4 linked regions of the Homo sapiens genome follow. The protein of the gene in region 1 purifies or fractionates together with the protein of each later gene. This does not show direct contact. Each region holds a gene or a part of one and is shown in the gene's direction. Other genes may lie near its edges.

What was found.
Region 2: the proteins of SLC34A2 (region 1) and ATP11C purify together in Homo sapiens (affinity purification with mass spectrometry; 3 studies listed by BioGRID and IntAct, with this or other methods). This does not show direct contact.
Region 3: the proteins of SLC34A2 (region 1) and LGALS8 purify together in Homo sapiens (co-immunoprecipitation; 2 studies listed by BioGRID and IntAct, with this or other methods). This does not show direct contact.
Region 4: the proteins of SLC34A2 (region 1) and ENDOD1 purify together in Homo sapiens (co-immunoprecipitation; 4 studies listed by BioGRID and IntAct, with this or other methods). This does not show direct contact.

Annotation. Positions count from the first base shown.
Region 1 is NC_000004.12:25,650,877-25,658,871, forward strand, and holds the start of SLC34A2 (sodium-dependent phosphate transport protein 2B), read left to right. Parts: upstream 1-4,974; 5' UTR 4,975-5,014; intron 5,015-5,587; exon of another isoform or gene 5,588-5,688; intron 5,689-7,995. UniProt on the Homo sapiens protein: Involved in actively transporting phosphate into cells via Na(+) cotransport.
Region 2 is NC_000023.11:139,727,045-139,734,068, reverse strand, and holds part of ATP11C (phospholipid-transporting ATPase IG), read left to right. Parts: intron 1-1,543; coding exon of another isoform or gene 1,544-1,633; exon of another isoform or gene 1,634-1,634; intron 1,635-2,313; coding exon 2,314-2,415; 3' UTR 2,416-2,418; intron 2,419-5,106; coding exon of another isoform or gene 5,107-5,169; 3' UTR 5,170-7,024. UniProt on the Homo sapiens protein: Catalytic component of a P4-ATPase flippase complex which catalyzes the hydrolysis of ATP coupled to the transport of aminophospholipids, phosphatidylserines (PS) and phosphatidylethanolamines (PE), from the outer to the inner leaflet of the plasma membrane.
Region 3 is NC_000001.11:236,533,964-236,540,987, forward strand, and holds part of LGALS8 (galectin-8), read left to right. Parts: intron 1-3,533; coding exon 3,534-3,622; intron 3,623-4,915; coding exon 4,916-5,126; intron 5,127-6,600; coding exon 6,601-6,720; intron 6,721-7,024.
Region 4 is NC_000011.10:95,092,823-95,099,846, forward strand, and holds part of ENDOD1 (endonuclease domain-containing 1 protein precursor), read left to right. Parts: intron 1-7,024. UniProt on the Homo sapiens protein: May act as a DNase and a RNase. Plays a role in the modulation of innate immune signaling through the cGAS-STING pathway by interacting with RNF26.

The DNA of each region.
Region 1 (7,995 bases):
CACAACACTGCACTCCAGCCTGGGCAGCAGAGCGAGACTCTGTCTCAAACATACACACACACACACACACACACACACACACACACACACACAAACTGATCTCTGCCAGGCACAGTGGCTCATGCCTGTAATCCCAGCACTTTGGGAGGTGGAGGCGGGCTGAGGCAGGAGAATCGCTTGATCCTGGGAGGTAGAGGTTGCAGTGAGCTGAGATCGCACCATTGCACTCCAGCCTGGGCAACAGAGTGAGACTCTGTCTCAAAAAAAAAAAAAAACCCAAAAAAACAGCAACCAAAAAAACCTGATTTCATGGGGGCAAGATTCAAATGTCAACTTCAGTTTGAGATTAGGAGGCCCTGATTCATTAAACCGATAGTTATGTATTGGACCTACCATGAGTTGAATGCATGCATACAGTGTGGTGGGAAGGGTCTGTGAGCTCTGAGAGGCCAGAGTTTGAGAGTCTGGCGGTGCTTCTAGTCATAACAGACACATAATAGGACATAAAAGGAGTAGTATTTACCTACTAAGTTCCAGGCCTATGATAATGCTTTACACTCACTGGCTTGCCAAATAACTTATAAACTATACAAACTTTATTATCAGGAACTGTTATATTTAATAACTCAGGCAAAATATTCACATACTCTTACCAGTACTAATAGTCATTACCATGATTGATCTTTTAGGCTGTCTTTGACAAACAGAAATGGACAGTGTCGTACGGTTCCAGCATTTAACCTCTCCTCCACCTCAATCTTACTTCCCTACGTTTCTCTTTGCCTCTTCTTTCTCACTTAGTTTTGAATCAATTATACTTTGTCGATCTGTTAGCTGTCTTAGATCCTTTTAGGAGCAGCATACAAATAGAAAAATACAGTCTCCCATATCCCACAACCAAATATAACCACAATGAACATTTTTGTGTATTGCTTTCCGGTATTTTTCTCTGCATATTTATGTACATATTGAAGCCAGGTTGAAGACAGCCTGTAATTATGTCAGCCCTGTGTTCTGTTCCGTTAGCATTTCTCCATTTAAACCTGACTCTTTGAAGTCCAGTGCTGTCTCATGACTAGATAACACATTATTTGACTTTTCTGGAATTCTGGCTGTATCTAAGGGGATAGGTTTCCTGTCACTGAGCCTGACTGAACAATTCTGAGATTATCAACACTGCCATAGGGCCCCGAAAAAGCGTCTAATGAATGCAAAAGTTCAAAGCGGTTTTGTTCAGGTGTTATTTTTGGAGACACTTTCTCAGGCTTTTATGATGCAATCCACTTTGTGCCCCTCTCTTGCAGCAGCTGCGGCCAGGGAAAAAGCACTAAGTGGGCTTGCTCACTGGTCCTCAGGGGTGGGTACCCTGGGCAGGTCAGCCCAGAAGTCAGCTGCCTCCTCTCCAGGCCCTGCCTGGACAGCTGAGAGTCAAGCAGACAGTTATGTGCCATCCCTACCTCTTTTCTGTCTTCAGTAACTGGCAGCTTCATCCTGCCAGAGAGTTTGGAATGAGCTAGGACTTTCCCATCAGTCTGAACTCCTGGGTTTTCCCAGGCCTGGTGACTCAGAGGGTAAGGCACCGAGCCGAGGAAGAGAAAGGAGAACCTGGACTCCTGGGTGCCTTTGTCTCACCACACAATCACCTCCCAGGAAGGCTGTCATCCAATCACTCCTGTGGAATCTCTCTGCCACTTTGTTGTAAAGAAAGTCAGCCCCAGTGAAGGGTAAAAAGAAGTGCCAGAGGGCCTTGGGGACAAGCCATATACTGGTAGAAAGGGCACTGGGGCAGGGTCCGAACAGCTGAGAGTATGTCTAGCACCAGGATGAAAATCAGTAGTTCACAGAGCTGCTTTGTTTGACCTACTCCGTATTTTTTTAATGGTACATTTCACATAAAGACCTGTATATCTGGCTTCCCCACAAAAGTCAAGATCTGACAGCATCTGACTATATTTTCTCATGCAATATCTGAAGCTGGGTAGCAGCCAGCCCTGGATGGGGTGTTTCCTCTCCAGATTAACACAGAGCCTACCAACTTGTTAAATCTCACCTCATAGGACAATAGGCGCAAAAATATACTGAAATGAGTTGAAAAAATGGTAATACTTTTTTTTTTTGAGACAGAGTCTCACTCTGTCGCCCAGGCTGGAGTGCAGTGGCACGATCTTGGCTCACTGCAAGCTCTGCCTCCCAGGTTCATGCCATTCTCCTGCCTCAGCCTCCTGAGTAGCTGGGACTACAGGCACCCGCCACCATGCCCGGCTAATTTTTTTTTGTATTTTTAGTAGAGACAGGGTTTCACTGTGTTAGCCAGGATCATCTCGATCTCCTGACCTTGTGTTCCGCCCGTCTCGGCCTCCCAAAATGCTGGGATTACAGGCTTGAGCCACTGTGCCCGGTTTGGTGACACTTTTTTGATGAAAGTATTTTTTTTTAATTTAATTTTTTTGAGACAGATTCTTATTCTGTCATCCAGGCTGGATTGCAGTTAGCTCTCACTGCAACTTCCGCCTCCCGGGTTCAAGTGATTCTTGTGACTCAGCCTCCTGAGCAGCTGGGATTTTTTTATATTTTTAGCAGAGACGGGGTTTCGCCATGTTGGTAGACGGGTCTCCAACTCCTGGCTTCAAGTGATCTGCCTGCCTCGGCCTCCCAAACTGTTGGGATTACAGATGTGAGCCACCACACCCAGCCTCGATGAAAGTATTTTAGATGTTTGTATTTATACATAAGGCTCTATGTTTGAAGTACTAAATGGTGAGAGTATTTTGTATCTCAGATGGAATAACGATAGGAAAATGTTCTTCAGCAAATTGTACTCTCCTAAAGGGAGAGATTATAGAGTGATGAACACAGACACGCCATCTACCTTTCCTCCAGACTTTGTAAAAAAAAATTATATAAATTACAATCCCAAACTAGAATCAGATACCATCCCTGATCTACTACCAAGATCTATACACATTAAGAGAACAATGTTCGGGATTGAACCTGTTTTGCCTTTTTAATCGGAACACAAAAGGGATACCTTTTTCTTTCTCCAAGTTTTTGAAATTTTGGTCTCCCTCCTACATTCACTCCTTGTTGAAAGTAATGGAAAGGCAATTAGGTCTGTGTCCCAAATGAAAGCCCACAGTCAGGAGGGGATTCTCATTGAGGTGACTGTCCTGTTAAGACCTGCTCCTGTGAACCCCCAAGCACAGGGCAGAGCAGGACATGAACTAAGAGCCAGGCTTTGCCGAATCCGGGTCGAGTTCACCGACAGCAGTGTGTGCAGCACGCTTCCTCCTCTGCACCCTGGCAGTAGAGCCCTTCCTCATTGTAAAGCCAAGTGGTGTCTGCAGTCCGCCTTGCCCAGGGCTGGAGGCAGAGCTGAGCTTGGTGAACAGGTGCCAGGGGATTCCTGTCATCAGTGGACTATGCTTTAGAAGCTGCTTGTTGCAAAGGTACTGGTTGATCATTGTCTGAGAGTTGGATCTGAAGGCCAACACCCACTAGCAAAACCATCATCCCTGTAATAACAGCAACCCAAGCAGATTTGATTTCTCCAGTGAAGGTTCTAGATGAGTCTAATCAAGGCTTCCCACCCATCTTCTCCCAACACCAGAGTTTCCCTGTGAAAACGATCATGGTTAACTCGCACTGAATACTATTTATGTGCCAAGTACCATTCCACATTCTTTACATATTTTAGCTCACTTTACTCCAACGGGGACCATTATTCCCAGTTTGCACATAAGCAAATGGAGCCAGGGAAAGCAAGGGGCAGAACAGGGAACTGATTTCCCGGAGTTTCGGCCCAGAGTCAGTGTGCTTAGCCACCGCCAACACCAGCCCCAGAGCTCTAGGCTCCTGGAAGTCGTGCTCCCGAGTCCTTCCCCTTGCACAGTGGAGAGAACTCGATGTTGGAATGAAACCAGCTAATTCCAGTAGGGTGCTTCCGCTGTTGTGAGGAGCTGGGCAACTAGTAAGCTCACTGAGCCTCACTGTGCTCCACTATAAAACCAGGAGAGTGCGCAGCAGAGGAGAGGGTCTGGGTTTCAGAATAAGAAGCAGGTTTTCTTCCTGCTCAGCAAATCCTGGGTAATTGTATCATATCCCCTAACCCCTTAAACCTCAGCTAGAGAGGGCGCCAGTCTTAGCCCCAGGGAAGGCTTTCGTGTGCACATTGGAGACAAAGCCTGCCCAGCAGTGCCCGGCACAGAACTGGGGAGCTGTTGGGATAAGCATGGGGGTGGACTCTCCCTGGGACAGATCCTATCTCACAGCAGTTTGGAGAACTGTTGTATACACACGCAGGTGACACGAGGCAGAGCAGGATGTGAAACGAGCGCAGTGGTTTGCCAAACCCGCAGCAGGCTTAGGACGGAGTGGTGAGAACAGCCCCCTTCCTTTTCCTCAGCTTGACGGTCCCAGCCTTTCCCATTGCGGACCTAGAGCCCAGACTCCCAGGGCAGAAAGCGCCCCACAGACTGATAAAGGTGAACAATCCAGGCTTTGTTTCCAAGGGCTTTATCCCTGACTTTCCAACTGGCTTTTATCTGTGTCTTCACGTCTCTGACCTCTTGAGCCTCACAGGAGCTAGACTAGAAGGTTCAAGTTCTTGAGGAGAAGGCAGGGGCGGGAGAGCCCCACTTGCGGGAATCTCGTGCGGACCGAGTCGGGGCGGGAGAGGGCGCGCACCAGCCAGGCTAGGGCGCGCGGGGCGCCGAGGGGCGCGGGGCCGTTTGGGGCCGTTCGGGCCAGTTCGCGCGGCGGGGCCCGTCGGAGCTTTTCTCTCGGCAGCCTGGCTGGCCGCGCGTCTTCTCCGCGCAGCGGGCGAAGTCGCGATGGGTTCATTAAGGCGGCAGGTAGGCAGTGCCCCGGCGGCGGCTGCGGCAGGCGGTCCTGGAATGTGCGAGGGGCGTGATGACAGCGGCCAGCCTCTTTGCGCAACACCTTCGCCATATATACCCGGGGCGCTGCGCTCCACCTGGCCGCCGCCTCCAGCCCAGCACCTGCGGAGGGAGCGCTGGTGAGTACCGCCGCCGGGGCAGGGGCGCTTCCTCGCTCTTTCAAGGACTTTGATTCACTTAATTCTTGCAAATACCTCTCGGTGCTGACTTCAAGGAACTTGGCTGGCTTTGGGCCGCAGAAGTGAAAAACACAAAGCTCTCCACAATGTTCAAGTTGTTTTCTTCTTAATGTTACGGTTATTGCTTTTATTACAGCTTTTGCTGCTACACTCTTACGATCGACAGTGTTATTAATCAGCCACACTTGTGGATTCTAAAATGATCACTGTTTTGAGAGTCGTGGTTTGGAAGAGGAAAGGCCCAGGGGATAGAAATCTCCACCTAGGAATCAGGATAGCTAGGCTCTTTGTGGCTGGGTCACCAACTAGCCATGTGACAACGCTAGTCCCTGTGAGCCCCTGGGCTGCCGTCTTCCATTCTTTATAAGAAGGGGAATGCGACATCTCAGGACCATGAAAATTCTAGGTTTGTGGTGGCTGCCTGGTGATGTGACACTGCCCCCCACCCAAGTGTGACTTCCACGTGGTACAGTGCTTGTTTGCAGTTATTTAAGGTGCCTAGGAGACAGTCTTAGTTTGTTTCTATTAGGGCCCGTGGCCATCAGCGAAGGGTCCGTCCTTCAGCCGTCTTGGGGAGCAAAGCCCGCAATTTATGTTTTCCAAGCCACAAATGGGTGAGCAGGCTGGGGAGATAACTTACAAGGAGATGTGCACAGGAGTGGTTGGGTTCGGGGACTGCGCATCCTCAGGCCAGAAAGTTGGGGGCTGCATGGCATGGAGTTAGTTCAGGTTCCCTGCAACGGTGCCTGCCACCGGTGGCTCGCACTGCGCTGAAGAGAGTTGGAATCTCGTTTTCTTTGAGGAGGTCCCTTTTTCAAACATGTTGATTTCATGGAAGCAGCTTGTGGATTTCATCACTCGAGTCCCCTCTTCCTGTTTGGGTGCCCCAGGGGGTTTCTGTGTTAGCCCTGATCGCTCTGGGCCTTGTCGTTCTTTCCTTTTTCCTTCTTCCCTTGTGTGCTGGCAGTTCTTTAACTTGTCCTGGGTTGGGTATTCTTGGAAAACTGTGCTTGTAGGAGTGGCCGTTGTTTCAGATTGTTAAAGAAAAACAAAAATAAAAAAGATTGCCTCTTTTGTCCCATGCCCGCTGATCATGATCTTCTCTGCTTTTGTAATTTGGGGAATGGGTGATAAGAAAGGCGTGCTTTGTAAAAGGTTTGGATGCTAAACAAATTGCCCCATCCAAAACTCCCCAAATTGCTCAACTGTCTCAATGAAGCAAGTCCCCTGTGGTATGAGGATGGGCTTCTGATTGTTGCTGTTAGACACAAAGGGGACAAAAAAATAGCCCGAATTCAATGCAATGAGGAAAACAGCCTCACAGAATCAGAGTGCTTTGGAATAAACTGGGCTTTAGTAACCAGTTTCAGGCATCTTCCACTCCTCCATCCTCACCCACACCCCCACTTCCATTCTGGGGACCGCAGGGAGCAATCAGGACATCCCAGGGAATTTATTCATCTCAGTGAATTTTTAAAATGCAAAGGTACAAAAAGAGGGCTATAAAAAGATTGCGGTATTTTTAAGATGTTTATATTTACAAATTTAACTGCTTTAACCTCCCCCCCCAATACAATGCAGCACAACTGATATAGTTACAAGTTATTTACAGGATTTATTTTAAGATATCATAAATACAAATTGATAGTGCATGGTGAGGGTGTGGTTTGGTGATATGGCCCAAGTTTAAAGTTTATTAGTGTGCCACATCAAAAATGTAAACTCAAGTTATCTATCAATGTGAGGCCCAGGCCAATTGCTTCCTTGACTCCTCTCATCACTACCACCATTGTGTCCTTGAAGAGATTATTATTAGCAGTAATGTAGGGACAGGGTCTCACTATGTTGTCTAAGCTGGTCTCAAACTCACAGGTTCAAGGGACTCTCCCACTTTGGCCTCCCAAAGTGCTGGGATTATAGGTGTGAGCCACCACCCTTAGCCTATAGGGGTGATTATTTTTCCTTGTGATGGCTGTAAGGGAAGCAGAGGAAAAGGAGACGTCACCCTCTTGGGAATTTTTGAAGCACAGAGTCATTCTTTCAAAGTACAAGAAAGTTTTCCTGGGCATCCCGAGAACACTGGCCTGCATGAGGTTGAAATTATCTCTGCAGTGTTGTGGTGCCTATGTGATTTGAAGCCATTAACCTCTCTGTGGCTCAGTTTTTCCCTCTATAGAATGAGGATACTGTTCATTTTAAAGGAGACTCTAAGTTTACATAGATACATGAAATGCTGTGAGTAAATTTGTGCACCAATTTGCAAGTGCCAGGCACAAAGTCTTTAATAAACACTACTTGGCTACCATGTGCCCAGCACTGTCCTATGTGCTGGGGATACAATGGCCATACTCTAGTCCCTGTGCTTGTGAAGGCTGCCATTCTGATGGGAGACTGTGTGTCCATGTTCTGGTTCCTCACAGGACCACTGCCCTGGGCTTCCTCCTCTCCCCATTTCTTCAGATGGCCTTGACTGCTGCTCTGGGCACAAGGGGCCCAGGAACAGGTCTTGGTTGGAGAAGCCCAAACAATGCGAATGTAGGGGTTGGGTGACTGCCAGGTACCCTACATTCCCCTGCTTCCCAAGTCTGAGCCAAGTCAAGAAAGTTCCTCTCCTGGGTCTTCAAGAAAGAATAAGAGCTCTTTCTGGCAGTGGGTGCCCATGTGGTGCAGGAAGTGGAGCCAAGAGGGTGAGGCACACAGGCAACTCGGTTATAGAGGCCAGTGTGGCAGCGGGGGAGCCCCTCCCTGGGCTTTAGTAAAAAGCTTCCAAATGATGACTTCTCCCTTCCTCTGCTGCTTCTGGCAGGTGGCAAGAATGTGCTGGAGTGAGGCCTTGGGAAGGCTGGGAGAGAACAAGGCAGTGGTTGCGCCAGGGCTATGGGGGTAGGAGAAAGGCTTAGAGGGGCTCAGAGCTCCAGGGT
Region 2 (7,024 bases), on another chromosome or scaffold:
CATACTGCTAATTGAGCTGGTGTCAAAGCTCTCTAGATGACTGCAAAGGAATGTGGAAATTTCATTCTGTTTTAGCTCATTATCTCCTGTTTACCCCACCCCACTGCCGGTTGCTAGCTATATCAATTTTTTTATTGCTTTAGTTACTCTTTCCATGCTTTCTCCTGCTTTCTGTACTTTCATTTCCTTTATAAAGTAGTTTTAACACCTAATCTATTAACTCCTAATATTTCTGCTTCATAGAAATACTTTTATCTCCGATGGTTGGATACAAGTGTTTGAGCACACCAAAACGTGCTTACAGTTGCAGTCTTGAATAGATAGGTTTGTGCATTAAACACGGGGGTGGGGAACTTGGTATCATGCTGATCTTGTCGCAGGGTTTTTGCCCATAAAATAGAAGATAGAAACAATTAAAATCTTTTTCTCAGAATCTAAATATTCTCTAGCTTTATCAATTGGTAATTTGCATTCTATCAATATGTCTATCAACTTTCTTCATTCCACCAACTTTCTTCATTTAAGGTAAAAACAAGAAAAAATGTAGTTGTCAAAACATGAATAAATTATTTACCTTTGAAAGTTTAATTGTTTATTAGAATCTTCTGGAAACAAATGTTACTTTAGCTGGTTTCTTTTTCTAAGCCCATTTTAGGTCACTAAGTAGACAATATGGGTAATCTTTATTAGCAGAGTTGTTCAAGTCATCCACATTGTTGACCACTCATCTTCTGTTTTGCTTGGGCAATGCCAAAACTGAGTCTGTAAATTACCTTATAATTTCAGGCACAGAATCAGAAGGAAAAAAATAACCTTAGGTTTGCCAGTTAAACTTTATCCATTTTCACTTTTCTGGGTGTTTTAAGGGGAAAAAAAATAATACCTTACCCAGGTAAAATTTAGCCTATCTTTCTAAAGAGGACTCTGTAGGAAAAACAGGGAAACCAATCAAATTAGGTTGTAAGAAAGGAAGTTAAGCATTGGTCAGAGGCAAATGGGACTGAAATGTGGTATCACCAAATGTTTTCCCATTGTTATTTTTGATTAAGTTTTTATCCTGCAACTGCTTAAGAGCAGTCAGTCCCTTCATAGTGTATCTGTACAGTTGCATAGGGGAGATAATTACTTCAAGATAGATTGGTGATTGGCAATGGACCCTGGACATAACTCTTTGACCAATGGATTTTGAACAAATGTAGGATAGTGAATTAATGATTAGAGATAAGTCTTATTTTAACGAGAAGCATATTTTAAAGCTATTTTATTTAAAATAGTCAATTTTCCCATTAACAAAATAATTTCAAATTGATATGTAGAGAAATAGTAGTTGGCACGTAATAATAGACTATTCCTATCTCTGACTCTGCTTTTACTTCAGAAAATAATGTCTTCAAAACTAACATATCATTTCGGCTTCGAATTCTCAAGTTTTCTTTTTAAATGTCTTACATTTGAGAGATTATTTACTTTTTTTTTTTTTTTGGTTTCTGCATTTCTCTTTTTTCTACTGCAATTTTCCACCTTTTGTGCAATTGTGAACAAGGTAACGAAACGCCTCCCTTCCTCAGGAACATCTGCTATCTTCATGCTTTCTCAAACTTCCAGCAATCACAGTTTCTCTTGGAGTGAATAAGGTGATTTCCTTTCTTAATGTACCAACTTGCTTGCATTCTCATTTGCCTGACACCATTTTCTAATTCTTTATGAAAAATTACTTCTCATGACTCATTTTATATCTTCTATTGATGCTTAGAGTATTTTGTCATTTTCTTTTAATCATGTGTTCACCTTCCAAATTGTCACACTGGAGAGGAAGTAATTTTTAAAAGCTTGGACTACGGGTCTGTAGTCTTCATTGATCCACGGTATGCAGTGGCCATGGCGTGTTAGAGCTAGTCTGTTCACCAGGACAGGAATGTTTTGCACAAATTTCTCTTTGTTTGATAATACGGCACCGGCACAACTCTCAGAGGTGTTCACCAAAAGGATGGTAAGGTTTACTAATCAAACCATATTGACTCATCTTACCATATTACTTACCAGTGCCATTCCAAAAACCCAAGTTTACTACATACTACTGTTGTCTGTTTACTTCTACCACAAAAACAATTCGAGTTGGAGACTTTCTTAGGCCTTTGAATGTATTCATTTGAATGTTATACATTTACTATATAGTGTAATCATTTGTACTTTTGGCCAGAGGAGTAGTCTATAGGAAATGATTTTTTTCTTTTACCTTTTTTTAAATATATAATCACCAGGTAGGTTAACCAATTTTCAAATGCTTTAAGTATCTTTGCCTCACTATTACAGAGAAATCTGAGCTGTAGAAGGGCATCTGACTCATTATCCGCCAGACCTTCAGTCAGACCTCTTCTTTTACGAACATTCTCAGACGAATCTAATGTATTGTAACAGGTACCTAGTGTTAAACAAATGGGCTGGCTTTAAAAAATCGGATTAACAGCATTATAAAGAAAAAATGAAAATATCACTCTCTAAATTTTCTCTGCTGTTGGTGTGGTGAACTTTACAATATTCTTTGCAAAAATATAAAGATGCATTACTTGGAATATGGGGAAATATGCATTTAAAATATTAAACATTAAAATATGATAAGCCCCCCAAATAAAATGTTAAACATTTTTCAGAGCCAAATGTTGATACAGCATATTTAATTTGTAAGGGGCAAGTTGTCATGGCAAGGCCACCATGTGAAAATGTTTGTTAATATTGATCAGGAAATATAACTTTGATTTATAAAGATCATTTGGAAAACTAAAAGTAAATATTCCAAAATTGCATCTGTATAATATCAAGCCAATTTAGCATTGCATGTTCTCTTGGGAATTATGTGAAAATAACTAAATGTGTTTGTACCTTCATGTGCTGTGTCTGTGTGTTTGCAGGTACTGTATACACTTATGTCCTTGTAAATGTCTGATCTCCAAATATATATCAATGAACCAGTCTAATCATAACTTTTTTAATGTCAAGTTTTATTCAAGCTAAATGTTTCAACTTTCAGAGGTAAAATATTTCATAGCCATTCAGGGGGATGCTTGCCTAATGATATAAAATGCTTTATAATTAATGTTTCCAAAAATGATTAAATTCACTTTATAATGTTTCATTTACCCCCAAAAATATTTGGGAGGAATTGATACGCCGTGGGAGGGCCCCTTGAACTCAGAATGACTCCTTTATGTATAGTCTGTATTTCCTTCAGTGGGGGCCTTTAACAACTCAGACCTCTGGAGGTCTTTTATCCATCCATAGGAATTTAGAGTAATTAATGAACAAGGCTTCCAAGCTTGTCAGCTTGGAAACAACTCTACACAGCTTAAAGCAGGGCCATCTTTCATGCACACATAAAAATTAATGATCATCATGAATACAATTGTGGGTTAGTTCACTTTGAAGCTAATAATTGCGAGTCCACCTTATAGGCCCATTTTTTTCAACAGCTGTCAACTCTGCCACCCTCTAGCAAAGAATACAAGTTAAATTAATGGATTGACTCCATTGGTTCTTCTGTCTTCCTGGAGTTCATCGCAGTCTACATCTGCACTGTTATTTTAGAAGCAGACTCATTTTGCCACAGTTAGCATCTTTTTACCCATTTTTGAACAACTTACCTGAGTATGTTTTCCCTTAGTAATGAATCTGCTTCACAAGTAACCTTCAAGGTCTTTGACCCCTTTGTCCCAGATTGCCTCGTTCTAAGCTGTGTGATGCATTTTAGCTATATTGTTTCTGGCTAATTTTGTATCCCCCTGGATTGCTCTCTTTAGCTTGGTCTGTGGTTTGGGGGACTGGGCTGGATAGAAGACACTGCTGTTGCTTTTGGCCTCTCCAGGGCCTTATCTCCTACAATGTCTAACATAGAACTGAGGAAGTATTTTTTAAAAACAATTGTCTTATTTTTAATGTAGTTATTTCTTCCAGGAATAGATTTTCATGTGGCATTATTTCTCCTCCAAAGACAATAATTAGCAGCTAGTTTAGGCATCTAGTTTGTTCCTTGGTTGGTAAGGAAACTACCTAACTCCTCAATGTGAGTTACATTCTCAGTATGAATGGCAACCTTATTTTGGTTAGAGTCACCATGACCCTGCAGAGCTACCTGAAAACCTACTAGTGGTTCTGGAGAATGTGGAACATAAATAGAAATGGAAGGTATTCTAATGAGCTTCTAGTCCAGCCATGGCAAAGGAGGTGTCCCAGAATGGGAAGAAAATAGCATACTACTTAAGACCTTCCACTACTCAGGTTCAAAAAGATTGAGTTTTAGAGTGGAGAATCAGGCTCCCTGTTTTGACATATGACTTCCATTTCTTAACATACTTGACTTACACTTAATGATCAGTTTGTCTGTCATGCACCATCCTGATCATAGCATTTGATGATGTTTAGAGGACAGAGAAGAATCTACAGATTTGATAGGGAAATATCCGTGGTTTCTCTTCCAAAAAGATGAAGCATAAGAAAAAACAGAAGAATCAATCGACTCATAGATACATGATCTACCAAAAGGAAAATTAACTTCCATATTGTAGGGGGGAAATATGCTTCTTTCAGTAAAAAGGAAGAATATTTTCACAATAATCTTCCAAAGCTGAATATATCTTCAGACTTCCTCTGTCAAAATTAACACATCAAGAAAAACAGCAATCTAATCATTCATCAAACATTTCCTGAGTATCTGCTGTGTGCCAGACACTATTACTAGCTGCTGGAGATAGAAGGTAAATAAAATGTTCCTGTTTTCAAGGACCTCCCAGCCTAGAGGAGAAGGGATCACAGCAAGCTAAACCTCTGCTATGGTAAATAATCCCAGAGGTAGAAAGTATTAGGAGAACCCTGGAACAATCCAAAAGCAAAAAGCAAGCCTGAATCTATTCAGCTGACAAATGAAGAAAGGATTAAAATCTGGTTATAGTGTCACTCTTTTTTTCCCCTGCATGTGAATAAAACTTGGCACTTTGTTAAGACAGTTGCTTTACTCTCATAACAAAATTTACTACTTATTTCTGAAAATGCTTAACAGATGGTTTCACATTATTAAAATAAGCCTTTTAAATCTGTATATTTTACATTTTTCAGAATCCGAATCTTGAACTGCCTATGTTATTGTCCTACAAGCATACTGACAGTGGTTACAGCTAAAAAAGAAAGCATGAAGAAACAACTACAAAAAGTTATCATCTCAGGATACTTGATACGCAACACACTAAACCACTCTCATGTCTAGAGTTCACAATAAATGTTCATTAAAATACCAAATGATTCTCTTAAGCATTTACCATTATTGTAAGTAGCCTTTATGGCCAAAGCTGTAAGTTAAGAATTATATGAAAGTTGAAAGCAAGAATACTTAGAATTCTGGCTTTAGTTAGAGTAATATAACTCAAATGGGTGCTCTTTTAACCCATGAACTTTGTGAATGGATTTAAATACAATAGTATGAAGTAGAAGTTATGCAATGAGAATGAATAGATTTTGCTAATACTACTTTTTTTGCCTGGCAGAAGAAATAGACTATTTGGATCACATTTCTCATTCCTCCTAAATGATCATCTTAATTTTTTTTCCCAAGTACATAAGGAATACTTGAAAATACAGAATAACTAAATAGTATCAATGCATCAGACAGAATAGTTAATCCCTTCTGTTTACCCATGTGCTACTAATGTCTTGGTAGAATATTCTTGCCAAAAAAATACCTTGAACGCTTATGTGGAAAGTGTTAACTTACGGGTATTTTTGTGGGAATAGAAAAAAATTGTTTATTTTTTATTCTTCTGAATTAAACCCCACTTATGGGTGTAAGCCTACTAGACTTGAAAATAAAGTATAAAACATTTCCAATCACTTAGTAGCCCCTCAAAGTAGTTAGAAAATAAACAGATTTTTCCAGTGTTGATTTTACTGGGATCTGCAGTAAGGTGGTTTAAACCATAGTTATATAAAAATAAAGGTCATTCTGAATATCAGCCTTTTATAATTTTATGTGAAGAGGAAGAAATATAGCTTATTTTAAACTTTTGACGGTTTTTATTTGAAAGAGATTGCATTTATGCATATATGCAGTGCTTTTTCTTAAACTTGGCCAATTTGGAAAGGGGGAAGGAGCCACCCCAAAACGGTGGTTCAGCTTGTAGAGCCATGACTCTGTGAAGATGAATGTTGTCTCTTAACTTGGACAGGGAAATGGTCTAACTCTAAACCATGTAACTGACCTTAGTAAAGTCCTTGACTAACTGAACTAGAAGGAAGGTTTAGCCTTCTAATTAGTTCACTTGAAACATAAATGTGAAATGTCTTCATTCAATGTTAAACACATACTTTTTTGGATATAAATGACCATATTTATTTGACTGCTAGTTTTTTTGTTTTTTTTTTGTCTTTCTGGCATGCCTGTACTATTATTAATGTTTATATTGTACCTTGATTTGGAAAAGTATTGGAGTTAATCTGTATTATATTTATATAGTCCATATGGCACATTTGATTCTTCCACATATATTTTGTGTTAATGTTTAGGTATGATTTTTTTCTAAATTCTAGAAAAGAACATAATTTCAGTTATCAGAAGCCATTCCATCATTATAGACCCTTTTTCATTATTTCATTTGCTCTCATATATCAGTATTATTTTTGAGCATTTTGTTACATGTCATTCACAACTTACCTAAGTGTGCTGTGTTCTGGTAGCCCGTATTTGAGGTAAGCTGCTGAAAACAAAAGTCTCTATATTCTTTGCCTATTCCAAAGAGCTAAAAAAGTCTAACCCAGGAAAGCTTTTGATATTTTGTGTTTGTTTTCTTGTTCTTATGGTTGTTGTTGCTGTATTATGATTGCTGTTTTACATAAAATCTATGGGAACTGTGAATACAGACAAGAGAGCCACAGTAGAGAGGCTTGTTTAATGCAGTACCATTGGAGAGTTAACAGAATAATCTAGTAGAAAAATAACTGGTTGCATGTAAAATTCCTTCCAGCCAGAAAGAAAGAAAGACAA
Region 3 (7,024 bases), on another chromosome or scaffold:
CTGCCCCTGACCCCGGATGTAGCTGCCTTTGACCCCAGATGTAGCTTTCTCCAAACCCAGATATAGCGGCTGCCCCCTTGCCAGAGTGAATACTGCGTCATTGTGGCTTCTTCTTGTCACTGGTTCTTACTTAAAAGCTGAGCTGGAAGTTCTAATGGGCAGTTTTGTCACCTGCTCTTACCTTGTTGCAGTCTAGATGAGGTCTAATGTTCATAAGCTAGGGGATTTTCAGATATGGAAAGGGATACCAATTTTCAGCAGCCAAATAGAGTATCACATTTTCACTCCATGTTTCCTGGGTGTCTGTTATGTTTCCTGGGTGTCTGACTCTTAGGCTTCTTTCAAGCTGCAGTCTGCCTAATAGAGAGCCTTGCATTTAATCATCAAAAAGGCAAAGCAATATGAATCAGCAAGGGTGTTTTGGGAAATAACAGCAAACCTGACTGTGGCGTAAGCTTGTGGTATTGTCTCCAGTGTGATCAGATCTGTATTTTAATTTTTTAAATGTAAATTAATAATGATCTGTGAATCACCAAAGTAGCTTGGAGTAGCCTAGAAAACAATGTATGTCCTCCGTTTTCACAGAAGCCACATAGTCGTGGGTTAAATGAGTCAGCGGCAGGGCACTGTGTCTCATAGTTAAAAAAAAAAAAAAGTATTACTGAAGTAATGCAGGATCTTTTCTGAAGTAGAAGGCATGATGAACCCAGAAAACTAAAGCAGCAAGTGGCCACCGTTCTTAGCATAGTTGTTTCTCAAACTGGAACAACCTATAAACAGTTGTGAACAAGGTATTAGAAGTGATGGGGGCCGGGTGCGGTAGCTTCTCCCAAAGCTCATTACCTCCCAAAGCAACCCCAGTACTTTGGGAGGATCACTTTGAGCCCAGGAGTTCCAGACCAGCCCGGCCAACATGGCAAAACCCCATCTCTCTAAAAGTACAAAAAATTAGCTGGGCATGGTGGCACATGCCTGTAGTCCCAGCTACTTGGATGGCTGAGGCAGGAGAATCGCTTGAACCCGGGAGGCAGAGGTTGCAGTGAGCTGAGATCACGCCACTGCACTCTAGCCTGGGGGACAGAGTGAGACTCTGTCTCAAAAAAAAAAAAAAAAAAAAAAAAGTGATGGGAATAGATTGTTTTGTCTCAAAAAGCTCTTTCCAACACTAAAATGAAACATATAATTAAAAATATTTTTCTGGCTATAGAAATATCGATGCTTATTATAGACATCTGCAAAGTATGAAAATATATGAAGAAAAAAATTAAAATCCCATCATCCCCCATGAAAACTATTGTTATCATTTTTGTCTGATTTCTTTAGTGTTTCTCTTTTTCTTTTTTTAATTTTTAATTTTTTTGAGTATGTAGTAGGTATATCTATTTATGGGGTATATGGCATATTTTGATACAGGATACAGTGTGTATTAGCAAGGTTTTCTTTTTAATGTTTATATTTATTTAGTTGAGATCATACTATATATGGCTCTATAGATTACTTTCTCACTTATATTACTAACTTGTGTTATTAAATATTCTGCATAAAGATAATTTTAAGATGAAATTTGATGTTATAAAAACTTCTCATTTTATTAAGAGATTAACGCTATGAAACCTGCTGCTATATATTCTTGGAACCAGCTGTGACCCAAAAGATCAATGTAGGGATGTAGGTCCTTCCCCATTCTCTACACACAAAATCAGATACTCTGATGTGCAGCTGTAGCCCCAGTCTACACTGTCTGTTGTATTTTTTGTTTTCTGGTGTCATGTGCCTCCCACCCTGCTCCTAGCAATTGCCATGACAACAAATAGATAATTGGCTTCCGTAATTTCTCATCTTATTGCCTAAGGCAACAGAGAGCTTGTGGGCTCAGCTTGCGGTTCAGCAGCTGCTTTGTTGCCTCTCCTCTGTATGTGTGAGGCCTGCCAGAGCCCACTTTCCAGACAGGTGAGAGTTCATTCATTCACCATGCAGTTACCGATCGTCTCTTGACCTGTGTCCTGGGGAGGTAAAGGTGATGAGCCAGTTCTGCCCCATGCAGCTCACAGTCTAGGCAAAGCTACATGCAAACAAACAGAATCCAAAGTGCTATCATGAACCCTCTGAGAGGGGCTGACTCAGCAGCCCAGGGAGCTTGAAGAAGGCTCCACAGAGGAGGCTGTGCCTCAAGGCGATTTCGGTTTAGGAGCCACCAATTTATAACCACTTTTCTGTGGCCCGTCTTATTTTATTTCTTATTTCTTGACAATCAGAAGTACCTTGGGTAGGTTTTACCATGCACATCGTAATTTGAGTGAGCTTAGTGTGAGGCTTAACGGTGTGTGGGCTGTACATCCTGGTCAGATGCTCTAGATGGAGGCAGATGGTTGTGATGCAGGAGAGGCAGCCACATAGCACAGGTCCCCAGCCAGTGGACTGGGAAGACAGTGTAGTCATCTCTGGGGAAGGGGAATGACAAGATCTGGCAGTGTGGCAGGTCCCAGAAAAAAAGGGCTGGGTTCTGGGCAGTGAGGGTGCAGGTTGAGACCTGAATACTGGGTGGAGCCAGCTGTCAGAGTCCACGCCTGCAGACTGGACTGGTCCACGGCAGGTGGATGCCATGTCTTGAAGACCCACAGGCACCCACTCATCCTCATGATCATGCAGTTCTCTGGTTTCTAACAGTGCAGTCTGGGTTGCAGTCTGGGAGTCCAGCAGAGAAGAGCAGGCCCTGGAATCCCAGGTGTGGGGGCGTGGCTTAACGTGGAGTTTCCTTCAGAGGCAGTGAGTGCTTGTCATTGTCTCCGTCAGCATTGGCTTTGGGCCTAGTGTGGCCTCGAACCTTCTGTTGGGATCAGCAGTGGAACAGTAGGAAAAGGAATGAGTAGACATGGCATTGCAACAAGTCTTTTTTTTTTTTTCTGTTAGAATTATCATATTAAGCAGAAGTTTTGCTTCACAAACTCTCAGCCAAATACAAAATACTATGAATAGTATTTACCTTGTGTCTCTTTCCAAAGAACTCATAGTGGTTTGCAGCTATTGCAGATATCCTGGCCATGAGGTATGCAGTTCCTTTTTTTTTTTTTGAGACGGAGCCTTGCTCTGTCGCCCAGGCTGGAGCATAGTGGCGCGATCTCGGCTCACTGCAAGCTCCGCCTCCCAGGTTCGTGCCATTCTCCTGCCTCAGCCTCCCGAGTAGCTGGGACTACAGGCGCCCACCACCACACCCGGCTAATTTTTGTATTTTTAGTAGAGACGGGGTTTCACCGTGTTAGCCAGGATGGTCTCGATCTGCTGACCTCGTGATCCTCCCGCCTCGGCCTCCCAAAGTGCTGGGATTACAGGCGTGAGCCACCGCGCCCGGCCGCAGTTCCTTTTTCTAGCTGTTTGAATAGGAAAGATGACTTGGAAAATGCTGGATTCTGAGCAGATTTATGTGCAGCCTTAAAAAGTGTAGTTTTTCTCTATCAATAATGAGTGTGGGTTGTAATTGCTTAGTAAGTAATTTTGTTTATGTAAACGTACATTTGTTAAATTTTTTTTCTTAGGTAATCCCGTTTGTTGGCACCATTCCTGATCAGCTGGATCCTGGAACTTTGATTGTGATACGTGGGCATGTTCCTAGTGACGCAGACAGGTAAAATCACTGTGCTAAAGGAAGGAGCATGAATAGGCTGTCTTTTTGTGATTGTGGAATGATAACAGAGTAAGGCGGGAGAGACCATTTGATACTTTGAGGCCCAATTAGCTTTCATCAGCAGCCCTGGCCAAGGTGCTGAGGAGATTGGAATGAATGACTAAATAAAGGTTATTGGGATTTATTTCATTGCTGTAAGTCTGATTTCAGTATAAAAAATTAGAACTATCAGCTGGATGTGGTGACTTAAACATACTTTTCCAGCACTTTGGGAGGCCAAGGCAGGAGGATTGTTTGAGGCCAGGAGTTTGAGACCAGCCTGGGCAACATAGTGAGACCCCCCATCTGTAAAAAAAAAAAAAATTTAAAAATTAACTGGCTTGGTGGTGTGCGCCTGTAGTTGTAGCTACTCAGGGGGCTGAGGTAGGAGGATTCCTTGAGCCCAGGAGTTTGAGGTTGCAGTGAGCTGTGATCGAGCCACTGCACTATAGCCTGGGTGACAAAAAAAAAAAAGAAAAAGAAAAAGAATTAGGTATGTCATTAAAGAAAGGAATTGTGGTCAGATGACAGGGACAGTCTAGTTTTAGTCTGACATTCCCACAGCATTACAGATCTAGTTCAGATGGTTTTACTGAATACCTGCTTTGGATACAAGCTGTGGTATCATTAGTGTTGGGCTCAGCTCTGTGTACCTAACACCTGAAGAGCAGTGGTTTAAGATGTGAAAATTAAGTCTCAAGGAGACAGCCCAGGCCTTTTCAGTTAACTCCTTCAAGTCGTTAGAGAAGTAGACTCCTTCGAGCTCACCACTCTGTTATCTTGAGGGTGAGGTAAGGTCCCCTTTCCCGTTTTCCTTGGCAGCCAGATTTCCAGCCCTCACTTCTGTGCTTTGGGTAGCTGGATGGGTGCATGTGGTGTTTGCGGGGAAACAGAGCTGGACAAAAGGCAAGTGCTTGCTGACTTCTAAGGCAGTTTCCAGTAGCCTTCCCTGAGCACTTCACTTCCATCTTACCAGCAGAGCTTTAGCTGCACAGGCAGGCCTAGCTGCGAGGGAGGCTGGGAAAGGTAGGTTTTTATTCTGGGCAGATTCAGACCCAGTTCAAACTCAGGGGCTATTTTACTGAGGAAGACAGAAAAGATTAGACAGTCAGCTCTTTAGGCCTCATAGTGAATGAATGAGGAGGGATTGGTCAGTCCCTTGTCACTGGGCCTGGAGTGTAGTGCCTGCTGGTCCTTTACTGGTGGCTTTCCTTTCTGAGCACTCATGGGGCCCCTGTGTCTTCCCTCATATAGATTCCAGGTGGATCTGCAGAATGGCAGCAGCATGAAACCTCGAGCCGATGTGGCCTTTCATTTCAATCCTCGTTTCAAAAGGGCCGGCTGCATTGTTTGCAATACTTTGATAAATGAAAAATGGGGACGGGAAGAGATCACCTATGACACGCCTTTCAAAAGAGAAAAGTCTTTTGAGATCGTGATTATGGTGCTGAAGGACAAATTCCAGGTAGGTTTTGGAGAGGGACAGGTTGAGTCCTCATTAGTGAGCAGGAGTGCACAGGGGTGCTTTTCACATTTGTGAGCCCAGCCTTATATTTCCTACACCTGAGATATAGTTTGTTTGGCTTTGTAGTTTTTCTCCATAAAAGGACCAGGAAGGCACCTAAATGTGAGGTATGGCACCACTACTCTCCAGCCAGTTGTTGCCATGCAGAAATATGGTCCACTGTGACCAGATCTTTTTATTAGATCCTATTTCTCCTAGCAGGGCTGAGTTCCGAATTGACACAGTATTATGTTCATGATGGGAGGGTAAGTTATAATATAACCGCCACCACCCGAAGAGCTAACAAGGGCAATCCCAGCGAAGAAATCAGAAGGGTTTTGTAAATTCAAGTCTTGCCACAAGACAGTTCCGTAGGATCATGAGATTTTAGACCCAGAGGAGATCCTAGAAATCCTTGATGTCAGTTCCATCTCTGGCTTCATGGAGTGTCTTGTACCTAGCGTGTATGTGTACGGTTGAATTTGGTCCCAGAAGCTTACACCTGCTGGCCCTCTGGCCTGTGGAGCTTGCCCACAGTAGAGGTATGTACCAACGCGAGAGAAGACTCGAATGCCTCTGGCGCAGATCCTTTCTGATCTTCGGGATACTGCTCCTGCCCGAAAGTCTTTCTGAATCTCCCAAACTCCATTCACCTCTCCCTTCTCTGGCCTTTTGAGCCCGTGTCTGTATCATTCTTTTTCACAGTTTTTAACAGTTGTGCTTTGGCTTTACGTGTTTATTTTGCCTCCACAATGGGATTTTAAGCTCCCTGAGTCAGAGACTATATTGTATGCTGCTCGCGTTTTCTGCCTATAACCTAACGTGGTACCTGGCATTTGAGAGGGAGGGAGGAGGAGCCTCGTAGCGTGCCGAGGACCTGCAGAAGCTACTTTCTCGTCATCTTACTGTAGTCTGTTGAGGTAGAGACTGTTCCTACTTCAGAATAAGAAAACCGAATTCAAATATGTTGGGTAACTTGTCCATATTAATTTATTTAGCAAATACAACAGATTTTGAGTGTCTGCCACATGGGTGGTCTCCAGGGACAGTGTTGTGGGGAGCTCGCAGGCAGATCTTTAACCTGGGTTCACAATCTCCAGGGCACCTGTGCCTGGGCTTCCAGGCGACCTTCGAACCCAGATGTCTCACATGTATGCAGAGGCGCACACAAGCACACGCACATATACTTATGACTGCCTGTTTGTCTGGGGAGAGACAGTTCCTGGTGCTTAATCAAATCAGGAACTCAAAAGAAGTTTGGAAGCACTGCTAGTGTTTTGGGTGCTTTCGGTTACCATTTGGTCATGTGTGTGGAGACCTGTGGGAACAGGTATAAAACTGGACGCAAGGAAACATTTAAATTTGGATAATAAGTTAATTTATTAACTGTTTTTTTTTGGTGGCGGGGGGGGCTCTGTCTTCTGTATCTCTCTAGGTGGCTGTAAATGGAAAACATACTCTGCTCTATGGCCACAGGATCGGCCCAGAGAAAATAGACACTCTGGGCATTTATGGCAAAGTGAATATTCACTCAATTGGTTTTAGCTTCAGCTCGGTGAGTGACCTTCCACAGCTTGGGGTCTTTTATGAGGATGGTTTCTGATGAGATGGTAGAAAAAATCTTCAAATAACACTTCTATTGACATAAAAAGGACGTATCTCCCTGACTGTAGTATTAATTTTTTGGAAGTGAACTGTTCACACTAGCAGAAGGCTGTTTATCAGCCAGGGCTTCATTGTCTGTAGGATCTCAAACCTAGTGTGGTTTTAATAAAACACACACAGTTTTTAGCTGGGTAGCAGCTATTTCCTTTGCATGGGCATAAAATGGAGTATTTCTGTAAGACAGGTTCCTAGGC
Region 4 (7,024 bases), on another chromosome or scaffold:
ATGCTCAGGGCTCAATGTGTACCCTTGGCGGCTTCCAAGCATTTTATAATGCTGAGTCTCCTTGTACCCACATCACCTTTTTATGAGGTCAGTGTTACCAAGAGGACCCGCACACAGGGGAGGAAGAGGCAGGAGACCAAAGGAACTCAGTGCTTGCCTCCAGTGATGAGTCAGGCAGGGCAGCAGTGACACTGAATTCCCAAAGCCCAGTTCGGCAGCTTTTGAGTCCACACTGCAGTTTCCCTTTGAAAAGAATCTCCTAAGTCAAAGATCACAGAAACTTAGTCACTCTTGTGCTGAAAATCTGTAAAGTGTTGCCTGCCCAGCCCCTACAGGACAAAGTTCACACTGCAGAATGCAGTTTACAGGCTCTCCATAGCCTAGCTCCTGTCTCCAGCTCCAATCTAGTTTCTCACCATGCTCCACCCTCATATTTTATGTTCTAGCATTATCCAGCTGCCTGGAGTTCCTCTCATAAACCAGACTGTTTGTGATGTCTGTTTCTTAGCTCATGCTGATTCCCTTTGCCCAAATTCCCTTTCTACACAGACCCCATCTTATCCTTCACTTCCTGCCCTTACTCCATCCTTTAAGACTCTGCTGAGGTGTCACCTCCTCCAGAAAGAATTCCCCACCTGAACTGTATCCACCTCCCAAGTTAGGTTCACCCCTTCAGTGCTCTTATAGTTTTTCTATTTTCATACTTACCATGTTGTTTTGTAATTATCTGCTTATGTATCTGTCTCCCCAACTTGAGCCCTTGAGGAATGATGATTGCATCTTACTCATTCTTTTCCTAGTGCCCAGCTTATAGAAAGCACGCGATAAGTGTTGAATAAAATAATTTGATGTTGGGAGGATCAATCAGGCAGGAGCAGGTGAGATGTTCTGCTTCAGTTTTCTCAGTGGGGCGCTTCCTGTTTCAGAAGCTTGCACCAGGGCTGGCCAGCAGCAACTGTTACAAACATGCTCCCTATGCAGAGCTGGAACCCTGCTCTGCAGCCACTCCATCAGTCTTAGCTTTGGCCTTTGAAACTATCCCAAATGATTTTGATCTCTGCTCTGCCTACAGGAGATGGTTTGGAGGAGTTCTAGTCAAGACTCCAGAAACCTGAGAACTGGATTCTGGTTTAGTGCAGGAAGCCTCAAACCTTTTAGTTTGTTGACTCCTTTCCACTTAATGGAAGAATTTTTAGATAAGATGCCAATGATACCTTTCTAAAGTGCATTGCTGATTTATGCCAGAAGCCAACATATAAAGCTCTATCATTTTATAAACATGGAAGGAACTGAATATATAAATTATATAATTAATATATTATACATATTAATTATATAATATATAATTTATATATTCAGTAACAATAGTGTATATTTGTTCAATCTTAAAAAATACTGTGAGGTAGATATTATCTTCATTGTAGAAAGGAGGAAACTGGCTAAGGGAGGTTAACTGAGGTGTTTTAGGGTCACACAGCTTATTTTTGAACTCATTACTGATTACTCTTCTGATACACTGTGGAGATTCTTTGATCTCACAATGGATCCACTGCGCTAATGGTCTTAGGACTCTAATTTTCATCTTTTATGTGAGAATTCTAATTTCTACTCCACTTCTATTTTCTGACAGTCATAGGACAAGTGGGAGCACTTACTTGGCTGCATAAAGGTTGCTCAAGTGTCACTTTACTCTGGAATGAAGGGGATATTCTGGTTAACTGCAAAAACATTTTCCTGGAGGGCACAGTGAGGTCTTACTTCAGATCTTAGTAAATGCAAATGGTTGTTTCAAGTTAGAACCTTGATTAAGTCCTTGATTTTTAATTTCCATCCATGGCTTATACAACCTGAAACAGAAATACTGTTCAATTTGTTCCAACCTCAGCCTTCTTTTCATTGTGTCAGAGAACAGATATATAGAGCATCATACACTTAAATCTCTGTGTAAGGAATGCAGTGAACAGGACAATCCTGATTCTTACTCCTTAATTAAGAGACTTAATTCAGATCCCTGCTCTTCCATTTACAAGCTATGTGACTTCCAGCCCCATTTTTTGGATCTGTTCATTAAAGGTTGTAAAAGTGTTTATAGAGAGGTTGTGACAAATAAACAAGATAACACATGAGAGCATGTGGCATGGTACCTGGAATATGGTAAACTCTTAGTAAATATTAATATGTATATAAGGTGTTACTTCAGTAGGTGCTAGGCGTGTGCACGCACACACACACACACACACACACACACAAATGGAATGTTGGATTAGATAGGTGACATCTACAATTCTGCAAATCTCTCCTAAAAAGTAAAATATCTATCCATGTATCTTCTCAAATGCTTGGTGTATGTCCCACATTCATACAGTAGCTGCTTCATAAATGCATGATGAGAGATGAAATGTGTGGAAGATTGAATGAATGGATGGAGGGTGGATTTGAGTGATTAAAAGCAAAAACAAACCAAACAGGTACCAAAGACATCTCCACCCTCTCTGTCCTGGAAAACCAAGAAGTGTGTTGTCAGAAAACAGTGAGCAATGGCATTCCAGTCTATTGTGCTGAGACTGGATAAGACTGGGAAGTGCCTGACCCAGGGGATGGTTCCAACCTTTGTTGAATTTTTCCCTTCTGGCTTTTTCTTCATCTTTGGATTTAGTGTTTCCTTTTGTTTTGCAGGCCATTCTCAGGATCAAGTTAAGGTATTTACCTGCGTTGGCAGAATATTTCAGGGACATCTGTCCTGAAGCAGTCCAGTGGTGACAATTCCCTATACTATTCTTTCAGTTTAGACTTATATCTGGACAATCTAGGCAAGGAACTATCATTTATTGATCCCTTACCATGTCAAAGGTCTTCACATTCTAACTCATCTCATCTCTATAACAACTCTAGGTATTATGACTTGTGTTTTATAGTTTAGGAAACTGAGGTTCGGAGTAGTTAAGTAACTTATCCAAGGTCAAACAGCTTCTAGATGGCAAAACCTGGACAGGAGTTTATGACTGCCCAAATCCAAAGCTCTTAACTCTCTTTATTCTCTATCACACTATTTTCTAACTAAAATGTTAGTTTTTTCTCTCCAGAATCCAAACTGGCTGACTAGACTTGTTATTTTATTTTTAATCCAGTTCTTTGGATGGTTTATGGTTTCACTACTAACATACCATTCTGTATGTAAATGCCAGCTTCAGATTTCTTTTAGCTCCGTTACTGGTGATTCATGGTGATTGAATGGAGCTTTCCTTAGGGAATTGAGATTTTATTCTTTGGGCATAAAATTTCTCTTCCTTTTAAACTCTCATCTCTGAAAGTGAAAATTTTAGAAAGTAAATCCTCTTATTTGCCAGTAGCATTTGTTTTCAGTTATCTGGTCTATCTTCTAGAATTACTGTTAGTCAAGAAAGCTTTTTTTTTTTTTTTTTTTTTTTTTCAAATTTCCTCCTTCAAGATGCATGTTATATCTTCTGAATGGTGACTTACCCTTTCATTTTCATGAAACTTAACATCTGTCATAGTAATAATTCATTGCCTGTCGATATATCTATTTGGCCACTGAAAGGAAGGAGAAATGAAAAAGAAACTGACTCATAGGCTGAACCAAGAATAGAAGCACCGTTTAATATTCCAGTCATGCTTCATTGACCTAGTGCTGAACAGAAGTGTGGCTCAATCAAAAGGTCAAACAGAGGGTAGTTTATATTTTTAATCAAAGCTGAAAATACGGGTACATTTTACTTTGTAGAATAAACAGATGGCTGAAATATTATTTGAAAATATAAATGTAATTACATGTTTCAGTTGACTTATACTTTAAGGGCTGATTGGTCTTCAGTTTTTATTGACTTCCAGTTGGCAGGGACACCTAATGCTTTAAGAAAGCCCTGAGCCCTCTGTCAATTCATTTTAGTCAACAAATCTTTATTGAGCATCTGCTATGTGTGAGGCACTATTCTAAGTCCTGGAAAGAGAGCAGTGGTTACAGACAAAAATACCTACTCTCATAGGGTTTATATCTAATAGAGAATATAGATTATAAAATAAATAAATAAAAGACAAGGTGCCAAGCATGGTGGCTCATGCCTGTAATCCCACTACTTTGGGAGGCCAAGGCGGTCTGATCATTTGAGCCTAAGAGTTCGAGACCAGCCTGGGCAACATGGCAAAAACCCATCTCTACAAAAATTAGCGAGGAGTGCTGGCATGCACCTGTAGTCCCAACTACTCATGGAGGCTAAGGTGGGAGGATCATTTGGGCCTGGGAGGTAGAGGCTGTGGTGAGCTGAGATCATGCCACTGCACTCCAGTCTGGGGGACAGAGTAAGACCCTGTTTCAAAAAAAAAAAAAAGGCATATTAGACAGTGATAAGTGTTAAGGAGAAAAAGCAAGGAAGGAGGCTATGAGATATCAAGGAAAAGGTGAAGTTTAAAACAAGGTTTCCATCCAGGGAAGAGATCACTGAGGAGTTGACTTTTGGGTATAGACATGAAAGAAGTAAGAAAGCCAATTATGCAGGCATCTATAGAGGGGGAAAACGTTCTGGGTAAAGGGAATGGTAATTGCAAAGGCCTGGAGGCATGAGTGTGTTGAGGAAGAACTAAGAGGCTGGTTTGGCTAGAGAAGAGTAAATGAGAGTAGCAGGAGATGAGGTCAGAGAAGTGGGGAAGGAGACGGCAGATCATTTAGATTCTTCTGAGCTATTTGTAAAATATTGGGGTTTTACTGTGTGTGAAGTGGGAAGCAATTGTGCAGGGTTCTGAGCAGAGAGCTTCGATGTGATCTGGCTTACATTTAAATAGGACCATTTTGGCTGCTGCATTGAGAATAGACATGTGGTGTTAAGGGCAGAAGCAAAGAAACCAGTTAGGAGGTTTCAGTGATCTGACAAGACAGTAGTATCTTGGATCAAGATGATAGCACTGTATATTCTGGATATATTGTGAAGAAAGAGCTCATAGTCTTTGGAGTGAGAGAAAGGGAAGAGATGACTCCAAGGGTTTGGGCCTGAATAATCAGAAGAATGGAGTTGTCATGAATAAGACAAGGATACAAAAGGAGGGGCTGTTTGGGGGCCATATCAAGAACTCGCTTTTGTTCATAAGAGCAAGAATATAATACTGGTTGAGTATCCCTAATCTGAAATGCTTGGGACCAGAAGTGTTTCAGTTTGAAGATTTTTTTTTGGATTTTGGAATTAGTGGCTGAACCTCCCAAATCTGGAAATCTGAAATCTGAAATGCTTTAATGAGCATTTCCTTTGAATGTCATGTCAGTACTCAAAAAGCTTTGGATTTTGGAACATATTGGATTTTGGATTTTCAGATCTGAGATGCTCAACCTATAGTGGCTACCAGGGGCTGAGGGGTGGGGAAGATGAGGAGCTCTTGTTTAATGGGTATAAAGTTTCAGTTACATGGGATAAATCAGTTCTAGAGATCTGCTGTACAATGTAATGCCTATAGTTGATGATATTGTATTGTGCACTTCAAAATTTGTTAAGAGAGTAGATTTCATATTAAGTTTTCTTAATACGCACACAAAACAAACAAAAGGACACAAGGAAAGTATGGGAGGTGTTGGACATGTCTCCCTCCTTGGTTGTTGTGATTGTATCATGGGTATTTGCATACATCCAAACCCAGCACATTAATTATGTGATGGGTTATTACATATTTATTGCACATTTAATTCATCACATTAAATATGTACAATTCTTTGTATATCAGTTATACTTTGATACAGCTGTAGGAGGAAAAGGTACTCCGTTTTGGGCACTCTGAGTGCGAGATACCTTCAGGTATTCAATTGACCTTCAAGTAAGTACAGTCTAGAGCTCATTGGATGCTTATCATATGGCAGGAGGCACTTTTCTAGTGTTTTTTTTTTCACATGTAATTTCATGTAATCCTCAGCATCGTCAGAAATAGGTACTATTATTATCCTTCTTAGAGGAGGAAACAGGCCCAGAGAGGTTAAACTACTATTGCATTTTTACACAGCTAAGAAGAGGTGGGGCTCGGGTTTGAACCTGAGCTGTCTGACACCAGAGCACACATGGACTGCTTCTGTTGCAAACCTGTTGATGTGTTGGGTGAGCTCCTATTGAATGCTCTTGAATGAAGTTTATCTTTTAAAAGTTCACATGTTCATTTACCAGGATTTTATAGAGGGTGTGTTTCTAGCTCTGGCAGTCACACGCCCATGAATATCAGAGGCTCACCACCTCCAGGTGTACCTTTGTGGCTATAGGAAGGGTGGGGTTATTGCAAGTACTCCATTGGGCCGAGGGTGCTCTGCCCCCTTGTACAGTCTTGTTCTATACTGATCCATCTTGAGCTCTTCCTATTATCCTTATGCAAGCAGACATTTTCCATAAGGCACCAGGTTAGAGCTGGGAAAAATGGATCACCCAAAAACTGTGTTAACTCTGTTGAGCAACAGATTTTGTCCCCTGCATCTCAGTGAGTAGCGGAGATAAGAGGGTAGGGGATAGAGTCTTGCATCTCTGGGCGTATGGAGACATTGCTGCCAGACAGGCTGTTGGATTGGATGTGGTGCATGAGCCTGAGGAGAGCCCATCTCCTGTCTCAATGCCAGCTGTCCCTAGGGGTGGGAAGGAGGTGCCCAGGCCGACTACACCCTCCAGAGCTCCGCTCCTTGAGCAGAGGTGGCAGACCCACACATCCATCATCCAGCCCTAGTCTGTTCAGGAGCTCCTTCTCTGCAGCCAGCTTGGCTCCCAGGAAGGAAGACCAGCAGAACACTTAAACTTAATAACCCAGTAATGCAGTAAGTCCTACTTTGGGACAAGAGGAGGGACTTTGCTCTAACTCAGAACGTATACCTCCTTGAACGTGCCAAAATTCCTTTTTCCTTTATGACTGTTTAGTAAGTTAAAGTCCTTCATCTTTGCAGGTTCTTGCATTTGTCCCTATACCGACTTTATCACAGCTTGGTAAATGTGCCTTCCCTCTATGTTTGTGAGATGGCAGCACTGGTTTCAGGAAATCTGCTTGCTGTTATCTT